Linked DNA regions of Homo sapiens. The protein of the gene in region 2 interacts with the protein of the main gene of each other region in a pairwise test. Each region holds a gene or a part of one and is shown on either strand. Other genes may lie near its edges.

What was found.
Region 1: the proteins of HMOX2 (region 2) and BAAT interact in binary tests that used the Homo sapiens proteins (3 or more experiments, as listed by UniProt).
Region 3: the proteins of HMOX2 (region 2) and MAPDA interact in binary tests that used the Homo sapiens proteins (3 or more experiments, as listed by UniProt).
Region 4: the proteins of HMOX2 (region 2) and SEMA4G interact in binary tests that used the Homo sapiens proteins (3 or more experiments, as listed by UniProt).
Region 5: the proteins of HMOX2 (region 2) and COA7 interact in binary tests that used the Homo sapiens proteins (3 or more experiments, as listed by UniProt).
Region 6: the proteins of HMOX2 (region 2) and LRRC56 interact in binary tests that used the Homo sapiens proteins (3 or more experiments, as listed by UniProt).
Region 7: the proteins of HMOX2 (region 2) and CNST interact in binary tests that used the Homo sapiens proteins (3 or more experiments, as listed by UniProt).

Annotation. Positions count from the first base shown.
Region 1 is NC_000009.12:101,364,507-101,368,006, forward strand, and holds part of BAAT (bile acid-CoA:amino acid N-acyltransferase), read right to left. Parts: intron 1-3,500. UniProt on the Homo sapiens protein: Catalyzes the amidation of bile acids (BAs) with the amino acids taurine and glycine. More than 95% of the BAs are N-acyl amidates with glycine and taurine.
Region 2 is NC_000016.10:4,479,398-4,482,897, reverse strand, and holds part of HMOX2 (heme oxygenase 2), read right to left. Parts: exon of another isoform or gene 3,337-3,500; intron 1,135-3,336; exon of another isoform or gene 1,019-1,134; intron 1-1,018.
Region 3 is NC_000015.10:43,337,172-43,340,671, reverse strand, and holds part of MAPDA (N6-Methyl-AMP deaminase), read right to left. Parts: intron 408-3,500; coding exon 320-407; intron 1-319. UniProt on the Homo sapiens protein: Catalyzes the hydrolysis of the free cytosolic methylated adenosine nucleotide N(6)-methyl-AMP (N6-mAMP) to produce inositol monophosphate (IMP) and methylamine.
Region 4 is NC_000010.11:100,972,504-100,976,003, reverse strand, and holds part of SEMA4G (semaphorin-4G isoform 1 precursor), read right to left. Parts: intron 3,476-3,500; 5' UTR 3,092-3,475; coding exon 2,968-3,091; intron 2,876-2,967; coding exon 2,727-2,875; intron 2,458-2,726; coding exon 2,395-2,457; intron 1,020-2,394; exon of another isoform or gene 920-1,019; intron 1-919. UniProt on the Homo sapiens protein: Cell surface receptor for PLXNB2. May play a role in axon guidance.
Region 5 is NC_000001.11:52,688,348-52,691,847, reverse strand, and holds part of COA7 (cytochrome c oxidase assembly factor 7), read left to right. Parts: intron 1-3,500. UniProt on the Homo sapiens protein: Required for assembly of mitochondrial respiratory chain complex I and complex IV.
Region 6 is NC_000011.10:544,027-547,526, reverse strand, and holds part of LRRC56 (leucine-rich repeat-containing protein 56), read right to left. Parts: intron 2,808-3,500; coding exon 2,747-2,807; intron 1-2,746. UniProt on the Homo sapiens protein: Required for the assembly of dynein arms.
Region 7 is NC_000001.11:246,565,314-246,569,255, reverse strand, and holds the start of CNST (consortin), read right to left. Parts: upstream 2,801-3,942; 5' UTR 2,593-2,800; exon of another isoform or gene 2,467-2,592; intron 1-2,466. Other genes in the region: TFB2M (dimethyladenosine transferase 2, mitochondrial), read left to right, coding at 3,118-3,430. UniProt on the Homo sapiens protein: Required for targeting of connexins to the plasma membrane.

The DNA.
Region 1 (3,500 bases), on a different chromosome or scaffold from region 2:
ATGTTTAAGCCACCATCAGCCACTTTTCTGAGAAATGTAGCCAAAACATTCCTAATGTATTCACCATAGGAGAAACTCATGCAAAAACTGAGAGGCAATGAAGAGCAAGGCATTTAGAGGAACCACAAGTCATTCTTCATTATTTTAATTTAGAGTATAAGGTGGGAAATAACATAATAAGTCTGAAACAGAAAACACCAACTTTATGGTGCATAGCTTTGAAAGATATATTAAGCATCTTCAGTTTTTTTCCTAACTAAGGAGGAAAATTAGGACAAATTTTAAGGATGGGCATAAGATAAGACTGAATAAGTATGCAGAAGTCAGATCATAGGAAGCTTTGTCTAACATGCTAGGAAGCCTGGCCTTTATCCTATAATAAATAGGGAGACTCTTAAGCAAGCGAGTAAAATAGTTGTGTTTACAACTCTGACTTGCATAAATGGAGGCAGAAAAGCCACAGATTAATGCACTGATAAAAGCAGAAAATTATACTGTCCTGAACTAAGGTAACAGCAGTAAAAATGAAAAGGAAACTACATGTTCATGAGTTATTTTTGAGTATTGAGTGTATTGCTCCCAGTTACCAATTTGGTTGGGAATTCTAAGGAGGAGTTAAAGAAAATTGTTGTGTCACAAAATAAAGCTCCGATTCTCCTTGAGCACTGGCTCCTGGCAAGGACAGAGTCCTAGAGAGAAGCATCACTTTTCTAAAACCTTTGTTGACTTCCTGTATTTATTTTAATTGATCTCCTATATTTTAAAGGCATTTTATAAACCAATGTTTGGGATATTTTCCCTACTACTTAGAAACACATGAATCAATATACAACTCATGCCAAGCTGATGAAAATGTGAGAAATTCTTAGGGTAAGAGGGAAAAAAAAAACTAAACAAATGGAATGAGTCATATATACTCTCTATTTCCTACCCTGTATATTTAACAGGGGTGGCTTGAATCAATTAAAAGTTCCTTTCAAGCTCTGAAATTCTGTATTTTTTTAATTTTAATTTTAATTTATTATTTTTTACTTTATTTTTATTTTTTGAGACTGAGTCTCATTCTGTCACCCAGGCTGGAGTGTGGTGGCTCAATCTCGGCTCACTGCAACCTCCGCCTCTCAGGTTCAAGCAATTCTCTGGCCTCAGCCTCCCGAGCTGGAACTACAGGCGCCCGCCACCACACCTGGCTAATTTTTGTATTTTTAGTAGAGTTGGGTTTTCTCCATGTTGGCCAGGCTGGTCTTGAACCCCTGATCTCAGGTGATCTGCCCACCTCGGCCTCCCAAAGTGCTGGGATTACAGGCATGAGCCACTGTGCCTGGCCTAATTTTTATTTTTAATTGACAAATAATAATTATACATATTTATGGTGCATAATGTGATATTTCAGTGCATATATACATGGTGGAATGAACAAATCAGGCTGATTAACATATCCATTACCTCACAAACTTACCATTTCTTTGGGGTAAGAACATTTAAAATCTAATCTTTTAGCAATTTGGAAATATACAATACATTATTATTAACTATAGTCACCATGCTGTGCAACAGATCACCAGATCTTAGTCTTCTTGTCTAACAGAAACTTTGTACCCTTTGACCTACCTTTCTCCCCCACCCCTCCCAATCCTATATCTTAATATATAAGATAGAGAGCGACAGTTATGTTAAGGAAAGATGGGAACTCAGAGTGGATTTGGCCATGAAAGATAAAGTAAAAGCAAGTATAACACGAAAGAACAAAAAAGCATGACTCATATCTGTGCAGGCTTTTTAATATGTTTCTGTCCCTTGCCAAAACAGTAACTCTTGTTACAACTTCTACCACAAAATTTGGGATCAGGAAATTATGAGTTCTTAGAAGTTACTTAAAATCAACACATAGAGAAATAAGACCTGCAAGAAAGATCTCTGTTCTATCATCCTGCAGAAGAGACAATGTGAAGTAGGTTTAATGGAATTTCTCAGAGTCTGGGGAAAAAAATCTGGTTTCCAGGCCTGGATTAATCATTAACTAGCTATCTATGTGACACTGGCAAGAACAGTGATGAAAAAGTCATGCAGCAAATATAAGGGGAACGAGGCAAAGACCGTGAAAAAAGAGAATCACATAACCTCTCCACTTCTCATCTAAGCCAAGAAGAAGGCTCACAATGATAATATTGACTGACATTTCGAGGGCAGTTCCATTATATGCATCAAAAATAGCCATTTAAAATGTTCACTACATCAGTAGATTGTCAGTAATTGTTGCTTATCTTATTTCTGCAAACCTGATTATATTTTGGTGATCCTTATATAAAAAAACATGTAGTATGGAGATTTAATTTTATTTCAATTCTTATTAAAAAAAAAAATAGAGGCCAAGGCAGGTGGATCACTTGAGGTCAGGAGTTGGAGACCAGCTTTCCCAATATGGCAAAACCCCGTCTCTACTAAAAATACAAAAATTAGCCAGGTATGGTGGCACGCGCCTATAGTCCCAGCTACTCAGGAGGCTAAGGTAGGAAAATTGCTTGAACCTGGGAGGTGGAGGTTGCAGTGAGCTGAGATTGTGCCACTGCCTCTAGCCTAGGTGACAGAGCGAGACTCTGTCAAAAAAAGAAAAAAAAAAAAAAAAAAGGAAAGGAAAGAAAAAATATTGGGCAATTAACAAGGTTTAATAAACTCCAACTCTATCCCATATCATAGTAGCAAAGCACATGTTTTAAAATTTTAAAAGGCATATGGATTGGAAAGCACTAATAGTATTATGTTTAAGGGCTCATGAGTAACTAAAAATTCAGACTCATTCTTCAAAGAAATACAGATTATCTGTCCAGTTAAGTATAGTGATGAGAAAAATGATAGCTAGTTAATAATTAGAGCTATAAGATAAGGCTGAAGCAGTATGTAGAAGTCAGATCACAGAAAGTTTTGTCTAACATTTGTTCATCTTTGAGTGCTTAGTATTGCCAGGTTCTATGATAAGCATTTTGCATGCATTATCCTTTTTTTTTTTTTGCTTTGTCACCCAGGCTGGAGTACAGTGGCAGGAACATGGCTCACCGCAGTCTCAACCTCCCAGGCTCAAGCGATCTTTCCTCCTCAGCCCCTGCTAAGTAAGTGGGACTACAGGTGCCTGCTACCACACCCAGCTATTTTTTTAGTATTTATAGAGAAAGAGTTTGGCTATGTTGCCCAGGCTGGTCTTGAACTGTCGGCCTCTATTAATCCTCCCATCTTGGCCTCCCAGAGTGCTAGAATTACAGGCTTGAGCCATCACACCCAGCCAGTCCCTTTTTAAAAAATAACCATAATATCCTATGACTTCTCTTAACTTCCAAGTACGATTCTCAGTGAACTTGAAATTCTATTCATGCCCATGTTATTTATAATTCACATGATTTATTTCTCATCCAGTGTCTTTTGCTCAGAAAGACAAAATGCATAGGAAGTTAGCCTGTGCACATTGTAGTATCAAAAGGCACTGGCTTCTGGCCAAGTGTCAGATC
Region 2 (3,500 bases):
CGACCACACCCGGCTAATTTTTTTGTATTTTTACTAGAAATGGGGTTTCACCACATTGGTCAGGCTGGTCTCAAACTCCTGACCTCAGGTGATCTGCCCTCCTTGGCCTCCCAAAGTGCTGGGATTACAGGCATGAACCAGCACGCCCAGCCATCTGTATCCTTCTTAATATCCTTTAGAGTAAATTGGTAAATGTAAGTAAAGTGTTTTCCTGAGTTCTGTGACCCACTCTAGCAGATTAATCAAACTCGAGGAGGGATTGTCAGAACTTTCGATTTATAGCTAGTAGGTCAGAAGTATAGGTGACAATTTACTACTTGTGACTAGTGCCTCAAGTTGGGACAGTTTTGTGGGACTGAGCCCTCAATTGGTGGGATCTGACGCTATCTCCAGATAGAGTATCAGAATTTAACTGACTTAGAGGACACCGCACCGGTGTGTCTACTAGAGAATTGCTTGGTGTATGGGGAAACAACTCCCATATATCTGGTATCAGAAGTGTTGTGTTGAGTGACTGTGGGAACAGAGTAGAAAAAAGACTTTGGGTTTTTTTGCCTTTCTCAAATAACCAGAAGAGCCACAAGCAAAGACAGAAAAGCATAACCTACAGCAGCTAGTTTCTCAGAACAGCATATTTTTCCCCTTCTGGGTCCACTTGCCTTTTTATAAACACAAAAAGTCTTACAGAGCAGGACAAATATGACACTGAACACAGACATTTGAAAATTTTGCTGAGATTGACAAATTCTCAAGTATATGGTAGAGGAATGGAGTTTTTTAAGTTATTTTCTAATTACTGGGATACCTGCTATTACCAAGCCAACCGAAGGCCTGACTTTCCCTCTGCCTTCCTACATAAAAAGAAGAGAGTAAAGGTTTAATGTCTTCTAGGTAGAAGTTAGATGACCACCCAGGCCACACTTCACCAAGTTTGCTTTTTCATCTGCCGTCAAACACTACTATCCACACTCAGCTTTGCTCATTTATTCCTTCCCTTCTCCCTCCTGCCCTCCTCCAGACTGCCACAGAGATAGTTCAAGGTGACAATGGCTCCTCTGCAGCAGCACATAGCAGTCTTGCCAGACACAACAGCAGATCAAGTAACTACTGAAGATGATGGCTACACTTGGACAGGTGACATTACATTATCATCAACAAACATTTATCACCCTCTTGAGTACTGTGACTACAAAGAAAGATAAGATCTTGCTCTGCACGTCAAGTACCTTTCAATCTAGAGAGAGAGTTAGGTGGAAAAATAAAAAGATAACATAAGGTGTACCATTCTATAAATATTAATTGTGCAATACAGACAACTGTGCTAAAGATAGAGCTTTATGTACCCGACTTTCCAGAACAATTCTGATTTCAAATACCCTGTTCCACCCAATTCTTTCAGTACACCTGTATGCTCAATGACAGGTGTTTCGCATAAAAATTATGATCATCACAGCTACTTATGAGGCCAGCCAGTCAACTAGATTAACTAAAATCAGGATGGCATTATAATGCCAGATTGTTTTATTTTTTTCTTTTTTTTTTTTTTTTTGAGACGGAGTCTCGCTCTGTCTCCCAGGCTGGAGCGCAGTGGCGCGATCTCTGCTTACTGCAAGCTCCGCCTCCCGGGTTCCCGCCATTCTCCTGCCTCAGCCTCCCGAGTAGCCGGGACTACAGGCGCCCGCCACCATGCCCGGCTAATTTTTTTTGTATTTTTTAGTAGAGACGGGGTTTCACCGTGTTAGCCAGCATGGTCTCGATCTCCTGACCTCGTGATCCGCCCGCCTCCGCCTCCCAAAGTGCTGGGATTACAGGTGCGAGCCACCGCGCCCGGACCAGATTGTTTTAATCACACTAGTACCTTCTTGCAGCCTCAGCACAGTGCTTTAATAGTAGGCCCTCTATCTCAGACATGAAAACATGAGCAAAAGCAAAAATACGAGGCCTGGCCGGGCGCGGTGGCTCACGCCTGTAATCCCAATGCTTTGGGAGGCCGAGGTAGGTGGATCACCTGACATCAGAAGTTTGAGACCAGCCTGACTAACATGGTGAAACCCCGTCTCTACTAAAAATACAAAAAATTAGCCAGGCGTGGTGGCAGACGCCTATAATCCCAGCTTCTCCAGAGGCTGAGGCAGGAGAATCGCTTAAACCTGGGAGGTGGAAGTTGCAGTGAACCAAGGTCACACCACTGCACTCCAGCCTGGGTGACAAGAGTGAAACTCTGTCTCAAAAAAAAAAAAAAAAAATAGTAGGCCCTTAGCCGGGCACGGTCGCTCCACCTCTAATTCTAATTGGGAGGCCAAAGTGGGTGGACCACTTGAGGTCAGGAGTTTGAGACCAGCCTGGCCAGCATGGTGAAACCCCGTCTCTACTAAAAATACAAAAATTAACTGGGTGTGGTGGCACACACCTGTAATCCCAGCTACTAGGGAGGCTGAGGAAGGAGAATCACTTGAACCCAGGAGGCAGAGGTTGCAGTGAGCCGAGACGGCGCCACTGCACTCCAGCCCTGGTGACAGAGCAAGACTCTAAGGAAAAAAAAAAAAAAAAGGCCGGGTGCTGTGGCTCACGCCTGTAATACTAGCACTTTGGGAGGCCAAGGAGGGTGGTTCGCTTGAGGTCAGGAGCTGGAGACCAGCGTGGCCAACATGGCGAAACCCCATCTCTACCAAAAGTACAAAAATTAGCCAGGCATGGTGGTGCATGCCTGTAGTCCCAGTTACTTGGAAGGCTGAGGCAGGAGAACTGCTTGAACCCCAGAGGCAGAGATTGCAGTGAGCTCAGATCAGATCACTGTACTCCAGCCTGGGTGAAAGAGCCAGACTCTGTTTCAAAAAAATAAAAAATAAAAAATAAAAAAGCCGGGCGCAGCGACTCATGCCTATAACCCCAGCACTTTGGGAGGCCAAGGTGGACGGATCACCTGAGGTCAGGAGTAGGAGACCAGCCCGGCCAACATAGTGAAACCTCATCTCTACTAAAAATACAAAAATTAGCCAGGCATGGTGGCATACGCCTGTAATCCCAGCTACTCAGGAGACTGAGGCTGGAGAATCGCTTGAACCCAGGAGGCGGAGGTTGCAGTGAGCTGAGATTGTGCCACCACACTCCAGCCTGGGTGACAGAGCAAGACTGTCTCAAAAAAAAAAAAAAAAAAAAAAAAAAAAAAAATAGAATAAGAAAAAGGCAGGCTGGGTACAAGATACTAGTCTGTTATGCCATTCTTCCCCACAGCCTTTTTAAAGTTACTGAGAACTATGACAGTAATTAGGCCTATAATACTCCTGGGAAGGAAACGAATCTATCTGTGAAACAAAAATTAATTTTTTCCCTAAGCTGAGTGAAGAGAATATCCACTTTGTTGGCTTCTGACATACACACTGACAGCACAGTTCACCAGACAACAATCACTCTTCTGGCGTCCCTTTCCCCAGGTATTCTATTCGCTTACTGCTCTATCTTCCCTGCCAGTCCACTCCCTCCTCTTTCCAGCCTGTGCC
Region 3 (3,500 bases), on a different chromosome or scaffold from region 2:
GGCTCACACCTGTAATCCCAGCACTTTTAGAGGCTGAGGTGATTGTTGGGCCCAGGAGTTTGTGGTTACAGTGAGCTATGTTTGCACCACTGCACTCCAGCCTGGGCAAGACAGCAAGACCCTGTCTCTAAAACAAACAAAATGAACATCATTAATGTACATCAGAGAGAGGACTTGGACTGTTGACTAAAGGTTCAATGAAATACAGAACAACACAATAGTATAAAAGTTAGTGCTTCATATTCCCACTCACAAACATGTGAGTGATCAAAGCACATAGGAAAAGGACAGTACATTTGCTGAGAAGTATAAATTCTACCAGTAGCATTTTCTCTTCTGGGTGTGCTCCTTAGTTCCAGGTACTTGACGCCGTCATCTGCAAATTCTTTTATGACATCTTTTGTGACCTGATAATAAAGATAACGTACACAATATTGATAATGTTTGGGTAAGGGTCCCAATGAATGTGCCAAGTGCTACAGCTTTATTTTATTCATTAAATCTGATTTGCAAGTAATGTTGGAAGTTTCTCACGTGGTAGAGATTATCCACTTTGTCACATCCCTGATGGAGACTATGCAGGGCTGCAATATTTCCAATCACTCCCATCACCCCTCATTCCCACATTCAATCCCAATCTGCACATCAGCTACACCCTTTGCTTCTTTTCCCCCTTTTAAACATTTATTTCCTAGTATTTATAATAGCAGATTGATAAAATAGAGAAATGGTGCAAAACTAAAACCAGCTGGAACCATCTGTATGTGTAGACTGCTAGGAAATGCACATACAGAAATAAACAGCTAAAATGATTAGGTATTACTGATGTGCTATTTGAAGTCATGGCTTAAGGTTTTTATTCAAGTTATTTAGGAATAAGTTACATTTTTCAATAAATTCTGGCAGGGTTAAATTTTCTCGAGAAGTACTTAGGGCAAAGAAAGTAGGTGATAAATATGAGTAAAACTGTATCCAATTTAGTGCAAATCTCAATAATCCAAAAGTTCCTGAAGGATTTCCTGAAGGATGTTTTTCCTTTCTGCCTTCAATCCTAAAAAATCTAGAAGAAAAAAAGGCTAGGTTGGCGAAGCTGTGACAAACTGCCGTAATTAGTCCTTACAGTTGGTATCCTAATCTTAATCTGCTTTGACTACACACACACAAGCATGTGAGTGCAGTGTCCTGGCAAAGCAAGAGGGGCTGGCTGTTCATACATACAGTGCCTAACAGTATGGCACTACCTTGGTGAATTCATAGCAATCCAAGTTGTAGGCCTCTTCTTTTTTCTTTTTCCACTAAAGACAAAAATGAACTTATTATAATGTAAGTGGAATGGGTAGCTCAGTTTCATCAAGAGGTCTAAAGACCCAGATTCTGAGAATACACAGCCAAAGATAATACATCTGCATTCTAAATCACATGAAACTCCAGGACCAAGCAAGATACCACTGCTGCCTCCTCCAAGGAGCATGATACTGCAGCCTCCATGCCATCATGAATGGCATTGGCCCCACGGCACTGCTACTCCAGGAACTCCCTCTTGCTGTCACTGACACCATGAAATTGTGGCCTCACCTTTGTATTAATAGGTTGAGGAATCTGGATCTTGTCACTGCCCCAGAACAGAACAGACCCACACTCAGCTACCCCAGCTCACATGAGACTAATGCAGAAAGCTGTTTGACAACGAGGAATACGGTTGAAGTGAGGGTTTGAAATAGTAGTCCTTTTCAGTGACTACTATCCAAGGCTCCCTCTTTCTGAGTGGCTAGGTACCTGTAAAACCAAATGAACAATGAAAAACTAACAAGTATGGAGCAAGAACAAAGGGAGGAAGATTTATCTAGGCCACAGTGAAGCCTACAGAACCATCCCTAACCCACATCCAAGAACATTTCCCTGGGGTCTACATCTGTGTTTGCCAGATTTAGCCCTTTCTGTGATGTGCAGCAGGTAGTGCGGTAGGTACTGAGAACAGCTCTTTGGGCTTTCCTCTCCTATGCGCTGGACTGAGAATATCTATTCAAATTCTTTTTCCAGACAAAGTACATCACAATTAGTTAAGTTCCTACTTACTCAAACCTCTCTAAGACTGTATAAGCTTGAATGGGAAAGAGCATGAGCTCTGCAACCAGATAGTACTGCCACTTACTCTGTGTGTGTGATCTTAAGCAAGTTACACTTAACCTCTTTAAGCCTATTTTTTCATCTACAAAAAGGGAACAATAAAAATACCTACTTCTGAAAGTAGTCCTAAGAATAATGTCTGGTACATGTAATAACAAGTATCATTTTTTCAGCCACACTCCAATCCTCTCTTTGAGATTATACCCAGGTCACCTTGACTAGAGTTTTAAGTGATCTCCCTCACACTCAGTTCTACATTTACAATCTCTTAGTTTATCCTCATAGACGTTTCATTTATCATATGGGGCACCCCATTGTCACCCTCTGAACCACCTAGTAGCACTAGGTCAAATGCACAGAATCTTCTCACTTCATTTAATAAAGCTTTTCAACTTTCATTTTGAAATGAATGTAGCAACAAGCATGCCATTAATATACCCATAGAGTATTAAACTGTCAAAGTTTCAATTTAATCATTTTGCTCTATAACACTCATCAACAAAGTGAGACCAGGGCCCCTGTGGTGGATATTCTTAGCTATGTTCAATGGTATCTTTTGAGACGCTGCTTAGAGAATGCCCTTTTGGTTCCCTATAAATCCTTATGTGTGTGTCTAATGCAGAGCTTACCACACTATGTTGCAGTATCTGCTTATGGGTCTGTCTCTCCAACCTAATTATAAATTTCTCAGGGGCAGAAACTGTGTCAATCTCTCTCAGACTTTAGCACAGTGCCTGGAACATTGTGGGCACTCAGTCAACTTTTGTTGAATGAAACTATTAGAGTTACCTCTCCTCTAAAAGGTGCTTAATTTACTTACCACTTATCATGAAGATCAGTCTTTACCAAAGAGGAAAATTTTTGCTTGATCAGTCAAAAGTTACCTCTCCAGAAACAGGTTATACTTTCTTTGCATTTTTTTTCTACTGGTTAAGATCACTGACACAATTTTGCTTCTCTCCATTTAGAAAGAGAACATTTTAAAATGCCATCCTAGTCAGATCAATGATACAGAAGACAATCTTCCATGTCAGACTCTAGTATCATGGAGCTTCAGATAAGAGAACACAGTGGTATCCTTTGTGCCCTCAGAGGGAAAGCACAATTTCCCTAGGGATTAATCACTTACTCTCTAAGCTCTTCTTGAACTTCTTCCTTCTCTATAATGTCCACCCATACAGTAAGTCTCCTATGTAATACAGACAATGCCTTATTAAGGATATCCCCATCTGTGGTCTAATACTTCTCTTTTTTTTTTTTTTTTTTTTTGAGACGGAGTCTCGCTCTGTTGCCCAGGCTGGAGTGCGGTGGCGCGATCTCGGCTCTCCGCAAGCTCCACCTCCCGGGTTCACATCATTCTCCTACCTCAGCCT
Region 4 (3,500 bases), on a different chromosome or scaffold from region 2:
CCAGACTCACCCTATTTTCATCCATCCAGTGCCTGGGGCCAGATAAATATTCCTAAAGTGATGTTTCCCCAAGATGTTTATTTATTTTTTTAATTTTATTTTTTTTGAGACGGAGTCTTGCTCTGCCGCTAGGTTGGAGTGCAGTGCATGATCTCAGCTCACTGCAACCTCCGCCTCCCGGGTTCAAGAGATTCTCCTGCCTCAGCCTCCCGAGTAGCTGGGACTACTACTCTCAACACCATGGTGATGTGACTGGGACTACTACTCGCATGGATGTGCATCACCATGCCGGGCTAATTTTTGTATTTTTAGTAGACACAGGGTTTCACCATGTTGGCCAGGCTGGTCTCGATCTCTTGACCTCATGATCCACCCGCCTCGGCCTCCCAAGGTGCTGGGATTACAGGCCTGAGCCACCGTGCCCAGCGGATGTTTACATTTTTTAAAGGGGGGTAGGGAGGAATTCTCTGGTCAAATAACTTTGGAAACCACAGGTGAAACCTATCTTTACTGGGCTTACTTCCTAGAGCCTGAAGGATGTTGCTGTGCATTGTGGGACTGGGCATGTAGTGTTTCCCAAACTCATTTGACATTTAAACCCCTCCTTTGAAAATTAATGTTCCTCAGAACATGCTTTGGGAACTGTTCTATAAAGCCTTGCTATCCAAAGTGTGGTCTGGGGACCAGCAGCATCAACTTCACTTGGGAGCTTGTTAGAATTGCAGACTCTTGGGCCCTTCCCCAGACCTACTAAGTTTAGCATCTGCATTTATAATATACCTGGGTGATACATTAAAGTTAGAGCCTCTAAAGTATCAAATTCTGAGGGTGTTCACTGTCACAGAATAAAACCCAAACTCCCAGCTGGGCATCTGTGGCCTTCCATGACCTGGTTCCATCTGCCTCCCCAGCCCCATTTTCTACCTGTGCTGCACCAAGAGGCAGCCTTTGATGGAAGCTCTTGGAGATGCCTTTTTAAACGGAGCTGTCCCAACACCACCCCTGGCCCACCTTGGCCCAGTGGATCTTGGGAATTTTTTTTTAATTATTTTTTATTAGAGATAGAGTCTCATTATATTGTCCAGGCTGGCCTCGAACTCCTGGGCTCAAGTGATCCTCCTGCCTTGGCCTCCCAAAGTGTTGAGATTACAAGTGTGACCCACCATGCCCAGCCCAGGGCCGTTTATTTTGTAAAAGCTCTCCAGATGGAGCCATTACCTAGCCAGACATGGGACCCCTGGAGACACCCTATTCTTTAGCTGGAAAGGGCTGATGCTTCATTAATGCCTGTCCATGGAATACTGGGTATTTGACCTATTCCTTGACCAAAGACTCATTTTTCTCATCTGCAAAATGCAGGATAATACTATTTCATAGGGTTATTTTAGAATTAACTGAGATAATAGCTAAATCATCACTTGCTGTAGATAGTTGCTGACTTAACAATGGTTCAATTTATTATGATGGTTTTATTGGTAAGTAACCCATCGTAAGTAAGCATCTGTAGAGGTTACTTACTGTTTTTTGTTGGTTTGTTTTTTTGAGACAGGGTTTTGCTCTGTCATCCAGGCTGGAATGTGTGGCTTAATTATAGCTCACGCAGCCTCAACCTCCCAGGCCCAAGTGATACTCCCACTCAGCTTCCCAAGTAGCTGGGACTACAGGTGCACGCCAGCATACTTGGCTAATTTTTGTATTTTTTTTGTAGACAGATCTCGCTGTGTTGCCAAGGCTGATCTTGAACTCCTGGACTCAAGTTGTCCTCCTACCCTCAGCCTCCCAAAGTGTTGGGATTACAGATGTGAGCCACCGCGTTCAGCCTACTTATTGCCATTTTGATTATTTGGGATCCCAGAGGAGATGAAGATGCCACTGCGGGACAAACTAGTAGGCCACCAGATGGTTGAATTAGAAGTACTGTGCCCAGATGCCGGGGGCAATGGCTTACATCTGTAATCCCAGCACTTTGGGAGGCTAAGGTAGGGGGACTGCTTGAGGCCAGGAGTTCAAGACCAGCCTGGGCAACATAGCAAGACCCTGTTTCTACAAAAAATAAAACACTTAGCTGGGCGTGGCATGTGCCCGTGGTCCTAGCTACTCAGGAGGCTGAAGTGGAAGGATCCCCTGAGCCCAGGAGTTTAAGGCCACAGGGAGCTATGATCATGTCACTGTACTCCAACCTGGATGACAGAGTGAGATCCGACCTCAAAAAAAGAAAAAAAAAAAAATGCTGTGCCCATGGCTTGCCACTCTGGCAATACTTACAATGTTTACTGTGGTTGCTGAGATTGACTGGCAGGTCTGTACCTACCCATCTGTGTCCCCAACAATCCTGGCATCCCTGATTGAGGAAGAAGGGGAGGAAAGGAGCTGGGGACAGGGCAGACCACATACCTGGTTGTTTTTCCCTTTTTGATGACATTTGCTTTGCATCTCTGGGGAGGCTTCCCAGTGGATCTAGTGGAGGCAAAGGGAATAGGCTGATGCACTGACCCCAATACCTATTACTCATAGGACCAGGCAATAGGACCCCACAGAGTTGGGGAAATTGGGGTGGGGATCAATTTCAGGAGGAACACTGAATGCAAGGAACACCTGGGCTGGGAAGGGCAGTGCTGTCTGACCAGGGGGCTATGGAAGGCTGGCAGGGTTTTAAGGAAGTTGAGGTCCCAGGGAGCTGGATAAGCATAGAGACCCTCTGGGTGGTCCAGGTTCCAGGGCCTGACCTCTTTGTGAGCCCCATCTCCTATGTCGTTGGCACTGAGAGAGAACAGGGCACCTCGGGCTCCCACCAGCAGCCTTGCTGAGGCCTCCTCCAGCAGCAGTGTTGAGTAGTTCTGGGCTTGGCCCTTGAAGTGCCGGGTCCCAGAGAGCTCTGGGGAGAGCAGGAACAGTGAGCCCTAGTTCTGGGGTGCCTCCCCACCCCCAGCCCTGGCTTCTGCTGCCTTTTGAGGTTGAGGGTCTAACCTTCATAGGGTATGGTCATCCGAGGGGTGGCATCTAGTTCTCTAGACGGTCTCCGCAGTGAGGGTCCTGGGACTGCAGTTGCTGTGAGGATGCTGAGGAGGAGGGGCCAGAGCCTCCCCCACATCTTCCTGGGGAGGCCCAGACTAACAAGACCCCCAAAGGGAGCCAGAGTCACAGGTTGTGGGGGCGGGGAATGGGAAGCACAGTCACAGGGGTCAAAGTCCAAGGAAGTCACTTGGAAGGTCAGGGGTCATAAGGTCATAGGAGTCAAGGAATCATGGGGCCATGGGGGGTCCTGGAATCGGGGGGACATGGAGTCACAGGGTTGTGTGGCCATGGAATCCCCAGCTAAGAGGTCAGAAGGAGGGAGGGATCACATGCCTTTCTGCATCAAATGCAAACTCCATGGTGAGAGGGAGTTGTGAAGTTCTAGAGGGGTTGTAGGTTACTGATGGGGTCACCCTGCCCCCGACAGTAGAGCTAGTCCTGGTTTTCTGAGGTCCGTTTTCTGAAGAAAAAACGGGGAAAAAAAA
Region 5 (3,500 bases), on a different chromosome or scaffold from region 2:
GGAAGGACTTAAATTCCACTTCTTGAAGAGGAAGGAATATTAAAGAACTTATGGACATATTTAAAACCACCACAGGCCAGGCACGGTGGCTCATGCCTGTAATCCCAGCACTTTGGGAGGCCAAGGCGGGTGGATCATGAGGTCAGGAGTTCAAGACCAGCCTGACCAACATGGTGAAACCCCATCTCTACTAAAAATACAAAAAAAAATTAGCTGGGCGTGGTGGCGCGCACCTGTAATCCCAGCTACTCAGGAGGCTGAGGCAGGAGAATCACTTGAACCCTGGAGGCAGAGGTTGCAGTGAGCTGAGATCGCGCCACTGCACTCCAGCCTGGGCAACAGAGCAAGACTCTGTCTCACAAAAAAAAAAAAAAAAACACACACACACATAAATAAGTAATAGGACCTTTGACAGGCAGCTTTTTTTTTTTTTTGTGACAGGATCTTGTTCTGTTTCTCAGACTGGAGTGCAGTGATAAAATCATAACTCACTGCAGCCTTGAGCTCCTGGGCTCAGGCAATCCTCCTGCCTCAGCCTCCCCAGTGGCTGGAACTATAGGCACGTGCCCCCATGCTTAGCTAATTTTTTATTTTTTGTAGAGACAGGATCTCACTATGTTGTCAGGCTGGTCTCAAACTCCTGGCCTCAAGCAATCCTTGCACCTTGGCCTCTCAAAGTGCTAGGGTAAGGTGTGAGCCACTGCACCTGGCCAAGGATGTCTTTTTTTTTTTGAGACAGGGTCCCGAGACAGGGTCCCACTCTGTCGCCCAGGCTGGTGTGCAGTGGCATGATCTCGGCTCACCACAACCCCCTGGCTCAAGTGATTCTCCTGCCTCAACCTTCCGAGTAGCTGGGATTACAGGGGCGTTTGCCACTACCACCCAGCTAATTTTTGTATTTTTAGTAGAGATGGGGTTTCGCCATGTTAGCCAGGCTGGTCTTGAACTAACCTCAAACGATCCACCCGCCTTGGCCTCCCAAAATGCTGGGATTACAGGTGTGAGCCACCGTGCCTGGCCCCATTTTAATTTTTTAAACTAAATTTTAGGCCAGGTGCAGTGGCTCACTTGAGCCCGGGAGGTGGAGGCTGCAGTGAGCCGAGATTGCTTCACTGCACTCCAGCCTCGGCCACAGAGCAAGACTCTGTCTCTAAATAAATAAATAAATAAATAAATAAATGTAAATAAATGAAAATAAAAATGATTCTAACCTTTTAATATTTTTTCTAAACTCTTGATAGCCCTAGTGGCTCATTTAGGAAATGTCACTATGGGCTAGAAATATTAATTTGTAGGTCAGCAGTTTCCTTAGTTTCACTTCAGTTTGGTTTTCTTCTGATAAATTCAAGTAAAATCAAAGTTAAATTTTTTACTTACAAGTAGCATTTGTGATCCAATTTTTCCAAACACTTCTATCTAGTATCCATTCAACCAGCCAGCATTTAATCTGAACACATGCTACAAAGATGACTGGAATGGTGTTCACTTAATGATAATGATGGTTATTTCTAGGTGGATTTGGAATGGTTACTTAAAAGAATAATGTTAAAATGTTTATATTTTTTGAGATTGAGTAATGGTACATGGAGATTTGAAGTTTTGCACACACACAAACAACTAAAAAAAGTGAGCCCTGCCACCACTTCTACTTAAAATTATTTGTTAGTGATTTCCCATTGTTTTTAAGATTAAATTCAGGGGTCTTAATGTGACCCTGCATGATCTGGTCCCTGCTTGCTTGCCTGCCTTGCACTATACTTTTCCTCCATGCTCTTTTTACACTTAAAATCATCTTTTTTTTTTTTTTCTTTTTTTTTTTTTGAGACAGAGTTATGCTCTGTCATCTAGGCTGGAGTGCAATGGCGCGATCTCTGCTCACTGCAAGCTCCACTTCTGGGGTTCATGCCATTCTTCTGCCTCAGCTTCCTGAGTGGCTGGCATTACAGGCCCCTGCCACCATGCCCAGCTCATTTTTTTTGTATTTTTAGTAGAGATGGGGTTTCACCATGTTGGCCAGGCTGGTCTCGAACTCCTGACCTCGTGATCCACCCGCCTCAGCCTCCCAAAGTGCTGGGATTACAGGCGTAAGCCACCGCGCCCAGCCTGATTTTTGTATTTTTGTAGAAATGGGGTTTTACCATGTTGGCCAGGCTGGTCTTGAGCCTCCTGATCTCAGGTGATCCGCCCACCTCGGCCTCCCAAAGTGCTGGGATTACAGGCGTGAGTCACCACGCCTGGCCTCCTGTGTATTTTAAATCAATTACTTAGAACAGGGGTATTCAATCTTTTTGCTTTCCTGGACCACATTGGAAGAAGAGTTGTCTTGGGCCATATATAAAATACAGTAATGATAGCTGATGAGCTTAAAAAAAAAATCACAAAAAAAATCTCATAGGCCAGGTGAAGTGGCTCACGCCTGTAATCCCAGCATTTTGGGAGGCTGAGGCGGGCGGATCATGAGGTCAGGAGTTCAAGACTAGCCTGACCAACGTGGTGAAACCCCGTCTCTACTGAAAACACAAAAATTAGCCTGGCGTGGTGGCATGCACCTGTAATCCCAGCATTTTGGGAGGCTGAGGCAGGAGAATCGCTTGAACCCTGGAGGCAGAGGTAGCAGTGAGCCAAGATCACGCCACTGCACTCCAGCCTGGGCGACACAGCAAGACTCCATCTCAAAAAAAAAAAAATAATAATAATAATAATTTCATAATGTTTTAAGAAAGTTTATGAATTTGTGTTAAGCCGCTTTCAAAGCCATCCCAGGCCCATGGGTTGGACAATCTTGACTTAGACTATCTAATACAATGTAAATACTGAGTAAATAATTGTTCTATTTTATATATTTTGTATTTTTTAATTGTATTGTTATTTTTTCCCTAATATTTTTGATGTGTGGTTGGTTGAACCCATGGATATGGAGGGCCCACTGTATGTTTAAATTAATAAACAATTAAGTGCTTGTCATATGCCATGTTCTCACTGTAACCCCATGAGGTAGATATTATTATCATTCCCAATTTTCACCTCCTTTACCTGTTTGAGTTTCCTCATAAGGTATCATCTGAATAAAAGATTCTACGGCTGAGAAAGCTAGGAGGTCTGTGCACTATGCCAGGCTACCTTTCATGCTGCCTGAGCTCATAGTATGGACATTTTTTTTTCTTTTTGAGGTAAAGTCTTGCTCTGTCACCCAGGTTGATCTCGAATTCCTGGCCTCAAGCAATCATCCTGCACAAAGTGCTAGGATTACAGGTGTGAGCCACTGTGCTCAGCCTTAAACTTTATTCAGGAATTGTTGTTGGCCAGGTGTGGTGGCTCACGCCTGTAATTCCAGCACTTTGGGAGGCCAAGGTGGGAGGATCGCTTGAGTCCCAGAGTTTAAGACTAGCCTTGGCAACATAGTGAGATCCTTTCTCTACAAAAAAATTTAAAAATTAGCCAGGCATAGTGGTTGGTGTGTGCCTGTAGTCCCAGCTACTTGGGGAGGCTGAGATGGGAAG
Region 6 (3,500 bases), on a different chromosome or scaffold from region 2:
CAAAAAATTAGCCGGGCGTGGTGGCAGGCGCCTGTAGTCCCAGCTACTCGGGAGGCTGAGGCAGGGGAATGGCGTGAACCCGGGAGGCGAGATTGCAGTGAGCCGAGATTGCGCCACTGCACTCCAGCCTGGGCAACGGAGTGAGACTCTGTCTCAAAACAAAAAAAAACACAAAATAATAGAGGCTTATTTGTTAAGCTAAAAAAAAAAGTACAGCCATCTCCATTAGAATATCATTTACTCTTGTATTAGGGGCACTTTTTTTGTTCTTTGTTTTTGTTTTTTACGGTTTTTTGAGACGGAGTCTTGCTCTGTCACCCAGGCTGGAGTGCAGTGGCGCGATCTCAGCTCACTGCAACCTCCACCTCCCAGGTCCAAGTGATTCTCATGCCTCAGCCTCCTGTGCAGCTGGCATTACAGGCATGCACCGCCAAGCCCAAGCCCAAGCCCAGCTAATTTTTTTTTTTTTGAGATGGAGTTTTGCTCTTGTTGCCTAGGCTGGAGTGCAATGGAGCAATCTTGGCTTACTGCAACCTCCGCCTCCTGGGTTCAAGCAATTCTCCTGCCTCTGCCTCCTGTGTAGCTGGGATTACAAGCGCACACCATGCCTGGCTATTTCTTTTTTTTTTTGTATTTTTAGTAGAGATGGGTTTTCACCACGTTAGCCAGGCGGATCTTGAACTCCTGACCTCGTGATCCGCCTGCCTTGGCCTCCCAAAGTGTTGGGATTACAGGTGTGAGCCAACCCGCCTGGCTGGGAGACATGTTTCTAAGAAGTCCATTTTCCAAACCCATCCTAGTTTCTCGTTCGCGGTGTCGTCTGGGTGCCTGCTGCAGGCCTGACTTCATGTCCAGGCCCCTCTCTGTTCCAGTTCTGTGGGCTGCCCACTGTGTCTTTGACCCCAAAGTGTTTTCCAACTTTCTTCCATTTCCAGATCTTCATGTATTTTTTTTTTTTTGAGACGAAGTCTCACTCAGTCGCCCAGGCTGGAGTTTAGTGGTGCGATCTTGGCTCACTGCAAGCTCCGCCTCCTGGGTTCACGCCATTTTCCTGCCTCAGCCTCCCGAGTAGCTGGGACTACAGGCGCCCACCACCACGCCCGGCTAATTTTTTGTATTTTTAGTAGAGACGGGGTTTCACCATGTTAGTCAGTATGGTCTCAATCTCCTGACCTCGTGATCTGCCTACCTTGGCCTCCCAAAGTACTGGGATTACAGGCGTGAACCACTGTGCCTGGCCTACTTTATTTTTTTGAGGCAGAGTTTCGCTCTGTTGCCCCGGCTGGAGTGTAGTGGTGTGATCTCAGCTCACTGCAGCATCTGCCTCCCGGCTCACTGCAGCGACTCTCCTGCCTCAGCCTCCTGAGCAGCTGGGGTTACAGGCATGTGCCACCATGCACGGCTAATTTTGTATTTTTAGTAGAGATGGGATTTCTCCATGTTGGTCAGGCTGGTCTCGAACTCCTGACCTCAGGTGATCTGCCCACCTCGGCCTCCCAAAGTTCTGGGATTATAGGCGTGAGACACCGTGCCCGGCCCATTTTGATATTTGTTTGATAAACAGAAGTACAAATAAGGAAAATCAAGAAAACATTCAAAGAGAGGTTGCTTAATGAATACCCTTATCCTCATCTGGAAATAACTAGATGTGGCCCTTGGAGCCCAATTCACACAGCTGGAGAATGTTCTAGAATTCTGCCTGGAATTCCCCTGCCTTATGCTGCTGGGAACAGGCTACATAAAACCAGCAGCGTTTTCACAAAACCCACTTTGCCCAAACCCCCAGAATAAAGTCGGATGTTCCTTCAGCCTTGTTCTTTCCCTTCCGATGACGTGAGAGCCGCCAACGTCTTCAGCTCCGAATGTTGTGAGTTGCTGTGGGGCACGGAGCTTCCTGTGCTTCTCCTGGGAGCTGGTCCGGGTTCTGTACACAGGCTCTGCTGTGCCTCTCCCGGGAGCTGCCGTCTGGTCCGGGTTCTGTACACAGGCTCTGCTGTGCCTCTCCCGGGGGCTGCCGTCTGGTCTGGGTTCTTTACACAGGCTCTGGCTGTGCCTCTCCCAGGGGCTGCCGTCTGGTCTGGGTTCTACGTGCAGGTTCTGGCTGGTGGTTGCCGTTCTTGCCCAAACCCCAAGCTCGTGGCCTCATGGTGCAGCCAAAGTCCTGGGCTGCAATGAGCCGTGCGGGGGCCAGAAGGCCCCCAGTCCTTGGTTGGCTTTGGGGTGTTCACCAGGGACACCTCAAGGTGGGAGCTCTGGGCCCAGGTCAGGGGCACCTTTGTGGAGTTTGCTGGCCACACGACCTGGCATGACTGCCTTGGCCCTGGCCCCAGCTCTGAGTGAGGTGCTACCTGCAGCAGGGGCTCCCACCCATTGCAGACACAAGAGCTCCATGTGTAGGGGTCACACGGCAAGTGGGGGTACATCTGGGCTGAGCCAGAGACCACAGGGCATAGGCAGGACCCCCGGGAGTCAGGCTGGCCCAGGACCTCGTCCTTTCAACAAAGACCCTCTCAGAGACCCCCTCACACCTGCCTGAATGTCCCAGGCTCCCCCCACCTGCCCATCCACCCTCCACAGGGTCACGTGGGGTCAGGCAGCCAGCAGGATGGAGCTCTCTAGACCCCTGGGTCCCTGGTCCCAGCCCAAGTCCCCCCACTCCCACCAAGTTCTCCCCCCATCCCTGCAGGGCCTGTCCCATCGGACCCCCTCATGGCAGGGCCCCAGCCCACCCCCCTCAGGCGCTCACCTCAGGGAGCCCAGGTGGCTGCCGTTCAGCTTCAGTTGGTCCAGGTTGGGCAGGTGCACCCCTGTATGGCCACAGGAGGAGGAGGTTGGCCCGGCCCCTCACCCCGCCCACCTCTGCACCCTCCTTCACCCCTAGGCATCAGCACCCCCGGCCCCTCACTGCTCGTGGGCCAGCCTCACAAGCCTCCCTCCACACCACAGGAGGGGTTACGTGGCACCCAGGAACTGCTCCAGGGCTGCGGGCTCCTCTGGCCACCAAAGGGGTCTGCTGATTCTATGGGGCCTGGTAGAGGGTCTGGCTCAGTGGCCCTGAGCCCCCAAAGCCTCACGGCTCCGCGCCCCTCGTCTGTAGCCAGCCTGAATGCAGCACAGCATGGAGGGGTGTCCACACAGCAGGGAAGCTCAGACCATTGTCTATGGACTGCAGGAGGCCACTGGGCTCCAAGAGTTGGCTCAGAGAACTGGGGCCAGGCTGGCGTGGCTGGGTGGTGCTCCCTTGGCTCAAAGTCTGGGCCCCACCCCCAAGCTGCCTCCACACCCCTCCCCTGGCATCTCAGACCGTCATGCACAGTCCCACACACAACACAGGACCAGATCACTGCACGCCCCAGCCTGTGTTTCTGCACAGCCCAAGGCCCCAGGAAAAGGCTCTGCGTTCGGAGTCTTTTGTAGGATGGGGCATATGCCCCTGTGAGGCAGACAGAATCCCTGCATTGTGAGAAGGGTTGCAGAGTGGCTGGGTGCGGTGGCTCACG
Region 7 (3,942 bases), on a different chromosome or scaffold from region 2:
AAAATAACATATATAAGATTAAATAAAATATACTACTAAAATTTTACCTGTTTCTTTTTACTTTCTTAATACCACTACTAGAAAATTTTAAATTACTTATATGGCTTGCATTGTATTTCTATTGAAGACTGCTGCTACAGACCTACAGCCTTAATTCTAACAGCAAGCAAGGACTATCACTTGGCATTTCCCAATTACAGTTGTCATTTAAAAGCCAAAAGAGGCTGGGTGTGGTGGCTCATGCCTGTAATACCAGTGTTTTGGGAGGCTGAGGTGGGAGGATTGCATGAGGCCAGGAATTTGAGACCAGCCTGGGCAACATAGCAAAACTCCGCCTTCACAAATAAATAAATATATTTAAATGTAAAAAGCAAGAAAAAAAGTATTTTAAAGGCGTGGTGGCTCACGCCTGTAATCCCAGCACTTTGAGAGGTGGAGGTCGGAGGATCACCTGAGGTCAAGACCACCCTGGCCAACATGGCGAAACTCCGTCTCTACTAAAAATACAAAAATTAGCTGGACATAGTAGCAGGAGCCTGTAATCCCAGCTACTCGGGAGGCTGAAGCAGGAGAAACTGCTTGAACCCGAAAAGCGGAGGTTGCAGTGAACCGAGATGGCACCAGCCTAGGCGACAGAGTAGACTCCATCTCAAAATTACTTCAAAAAGGCAAAAACAGCATAGGATAGAAAACCACACTTCTTAAGAAAAAAGATGGGAAATACTGCACACTAATCAAGTTTTTCTAATAAAGTATGTCTAAATCCTGATCATAAAGTTCATCTTTAAGGTGAAATCAACATTCTCAGCACCTGGGACCTCAGAAAAAAAATAAGATGTACAAAAATCTCTTATTATTCAAGTACCTTCAATTACAAACAAGTGAACCATCAACACTGTAAAAAGGGAATATTATAATGTAATTCTCTTTCCCAAAACCAAGAGAAAATAATAACACTCAAAAGCAAAATAAAAAATGACATCAGTTTTTCTAGGACTCAGTAGGCTAACTTTGGTCCACAAACATTATGAAATAAGACAGTGCATTTTAAAATAACTGTTTTGTTTTTAACCACAATGTGTTTATTTTTCTTTTTCTCTTTTTCTTTCTTTCTTTTTTTTTAAGGAGACAGAGTCTATGTTGCCCAGTCTGGCTTCGAACTCCCGGCAGCAAGTGATCCTCCCACCTTGGCCTCCCAAAGTGCTGGGATTACAGGCATGAACTACCATACCCAGCCACCACAGTGTTTTTTTTAAAAAGTCAGAAATTCAACGACACATTTCTATGAGTGAACCATGAAGACATAATTCTATTTTATCTGATTTAAAAATATTTAGGACTCCAGGTCCTGGAGGGGGAAAAAAGTGTATTTCTGAATCTATGAAAATGTTTTTTAAGGGGAGAGGGGGAGGCAGCTCAGTAATGGAGAGAGGTTCAGAGGATGCAAAGTCACCTCTAGAAAATTGTCAGTGAGAAAACTGTACGAAAAAAGAATTTAAGCAAATTAAGACCAATGAGTGAGTCCCCACAGTTTGCACAACAGTTGATGAGATATTTTCTATGATGTCCTAACAAATTTATAATACACAAAAGGTCATATTTAGTTGTCAATTCTTTATCCGCTTGAGCTTCATCAGATGAGTATAATCTTCAGACTATTTGCTGGGTGATACATTCCTTAGGAACCTTTTCCTCGTGCATTTAAATGCCAAACTCAATTACACTCTCAGTAGAGTAAGCAGAAAGGATTGTACGTATTCTAAGACACGGAGTTGATTGGCTGCCGTTTCTTGCCTTGGTGGTAAGGATAATGGGTAAAAGCTCTAAGTTTGATCCTGAAACACGGAAAACACTCTCAAAGAACCGTGTCTTCTAACATTGCCCAATAGGTAAAAAAAAAAAGACTGCCAAAATTTCCATTACAGCATCCTATTTTTAGTCTTCAAAATTGGGTCTTTTAAATCGCATTCCACAGTACGATGTGTTTGACTAAGTTTACATAAGGAATACAGTAAGCATCCTAAAGTCTTAATCTTTTTAAGCTTAGAAAGGAATTGTAAGCTTTTACATCTTCATTTTTAATCTTAACTTTAAGTCTTTTAAACACACAAACTGAAAAAATTAAGGAAAATATTGGCCCAGAGAGAGGAATGGAAGGGAGACACCACGCGGTTCTTGACAACCAAAGTGGTAGTGATGGGGGGGACCAGGTGTGGGGGGGAAATGAAAACCATCCACGAGGGTGGGGAGAGCGGGCTGTGGGCCACACAACAGAAAGGAACGGAGACCGTGGAAGCCGCAGGCTCCTCCAGGAGCCGGGTGAGGAACGACTTCTGGCGCTAGTCCCCTAGGGAGGGAGAAATTGGCGCGACGCGCAGCAATAGGAGACCCACAGTAGCTGAGAAAGGAGAGGAAAACAGGCGACCTGAGAGGCGGAGGAGGTAAGGGGACCGGGCTACACCTCACCCGGAGGGCAGAGGCTGCGCGGCTGGAGGAGGACAGCGCAGGGGGAGGAGCGAGAGGCTTCCGAAAGGCTTTCCATCCCGGCCGCGAGCCGGCGGGTCCCCTGCATCCCGCTCCTCCTCTCCTCACCTGGGAATCGGAGGCGCAAGGAGGGCTACCGCTGGGCGCCGGGTCTGTTTCCAGCCCCACTCGGCGACATGGCGGCCGACGTGCTGTCACGGAGCTTGCTCGGGTCTCCCCTGGCTCCGGTGGAGGAGACACCTCTCGCCTTTCCGCCCCGCCTCCCTCTGCGCACCCCTCGCGGCTGGCCGGCTGGAGGCTGGCGGCCCGCGACCGCGGAGCATAGAGCACTGGCGGCTAGAGAGGAAGCGCAGAGCGCGGACAACCATAGAGTACGAGTCCGGACACCAGCCGGATGGTCGGTCGCTCTCCTCAACGGTCCACTCACAATCCTCGGGCGGCTGAGCCGAGGCGGAAGCGGAAGTGAGGGAGAAAAGCAGGAAGGCTCCGCTGTTCGCATGCGCAGGCTCTAGTGTTTACTTCCGCTTGACCTGGCCCGGACGCCAGAAAATGTTCCACGTGGGATACCCTGCGTGGGGTTCACTGTAGTAGCTGCACTAGGTGATTCTTGGAGCGGGCCTGAGAGACAAGGACATGTGGATCCCAGTGGTCGGGCTTCCTCGGCGGCTGAGGCTCTCCGCCTTGGCGGGCGCTGGTCGCTTTTGCATTTTAGGGTCTGAAGCGGCGACGCGAAAGCATTTGCCGGCGAGGAACCACTGTGGGCTCTCTGACTCCTCTCCGCAGCTGTGGCCCGAACCGGATTTCAGGAATCCGCCAAGGAAGGCGTCTAAGGCCAGCTTAGACTTTAAGCGTTACGTAACCGATCGGAGATTGGCTGAGACCCTGGCGCAAATCTATTTGGGAAAACCAAGTAGACCTCCACACCTACTGCTGGAGTGCAATCCAGGTGAGTCCAGCTGAATTGCATTTTCTTGGATGTTCATCATTTATTCAAACGTATTGACCCTCCTCGGGGTGCTATTTTAGATACTGGGGGGTCTTTTTTGTTGTTCTTTTGCTTTGAGACGGAGTCTCGCTGTGTTGCCAGGCTGGAGTGCAGTGGGGCGATCTCGGCTCCCTGCAACCTCCGCGTACCGGGTTCAGGCGATTCTCCTGCCTCAGCCTCCCGAGTAGCAAGAACTACAGGCGCGCGCCACCACGCCCAGCTAATTTTCTTATTTTTACTAGAGACGGGATTTCGCCGTGTTGGCCAGGATGGTCTCGATCTCTTGACCTCGTGATCCTCCCCCCTAGGTCTCCCAAAATGCTGGGATTAGAGGCGTGAGCCACTGCGCCCGTCCAGATACGGGTCTTTGTTTGAAGCTCCTTAGTTGGAGAGATTGCCCACTACATAAGCGTAGAGTCTGTATCGTTAATGACACCACAAAGTATTTCTGTAGCAGCTTGCACTTTACACAA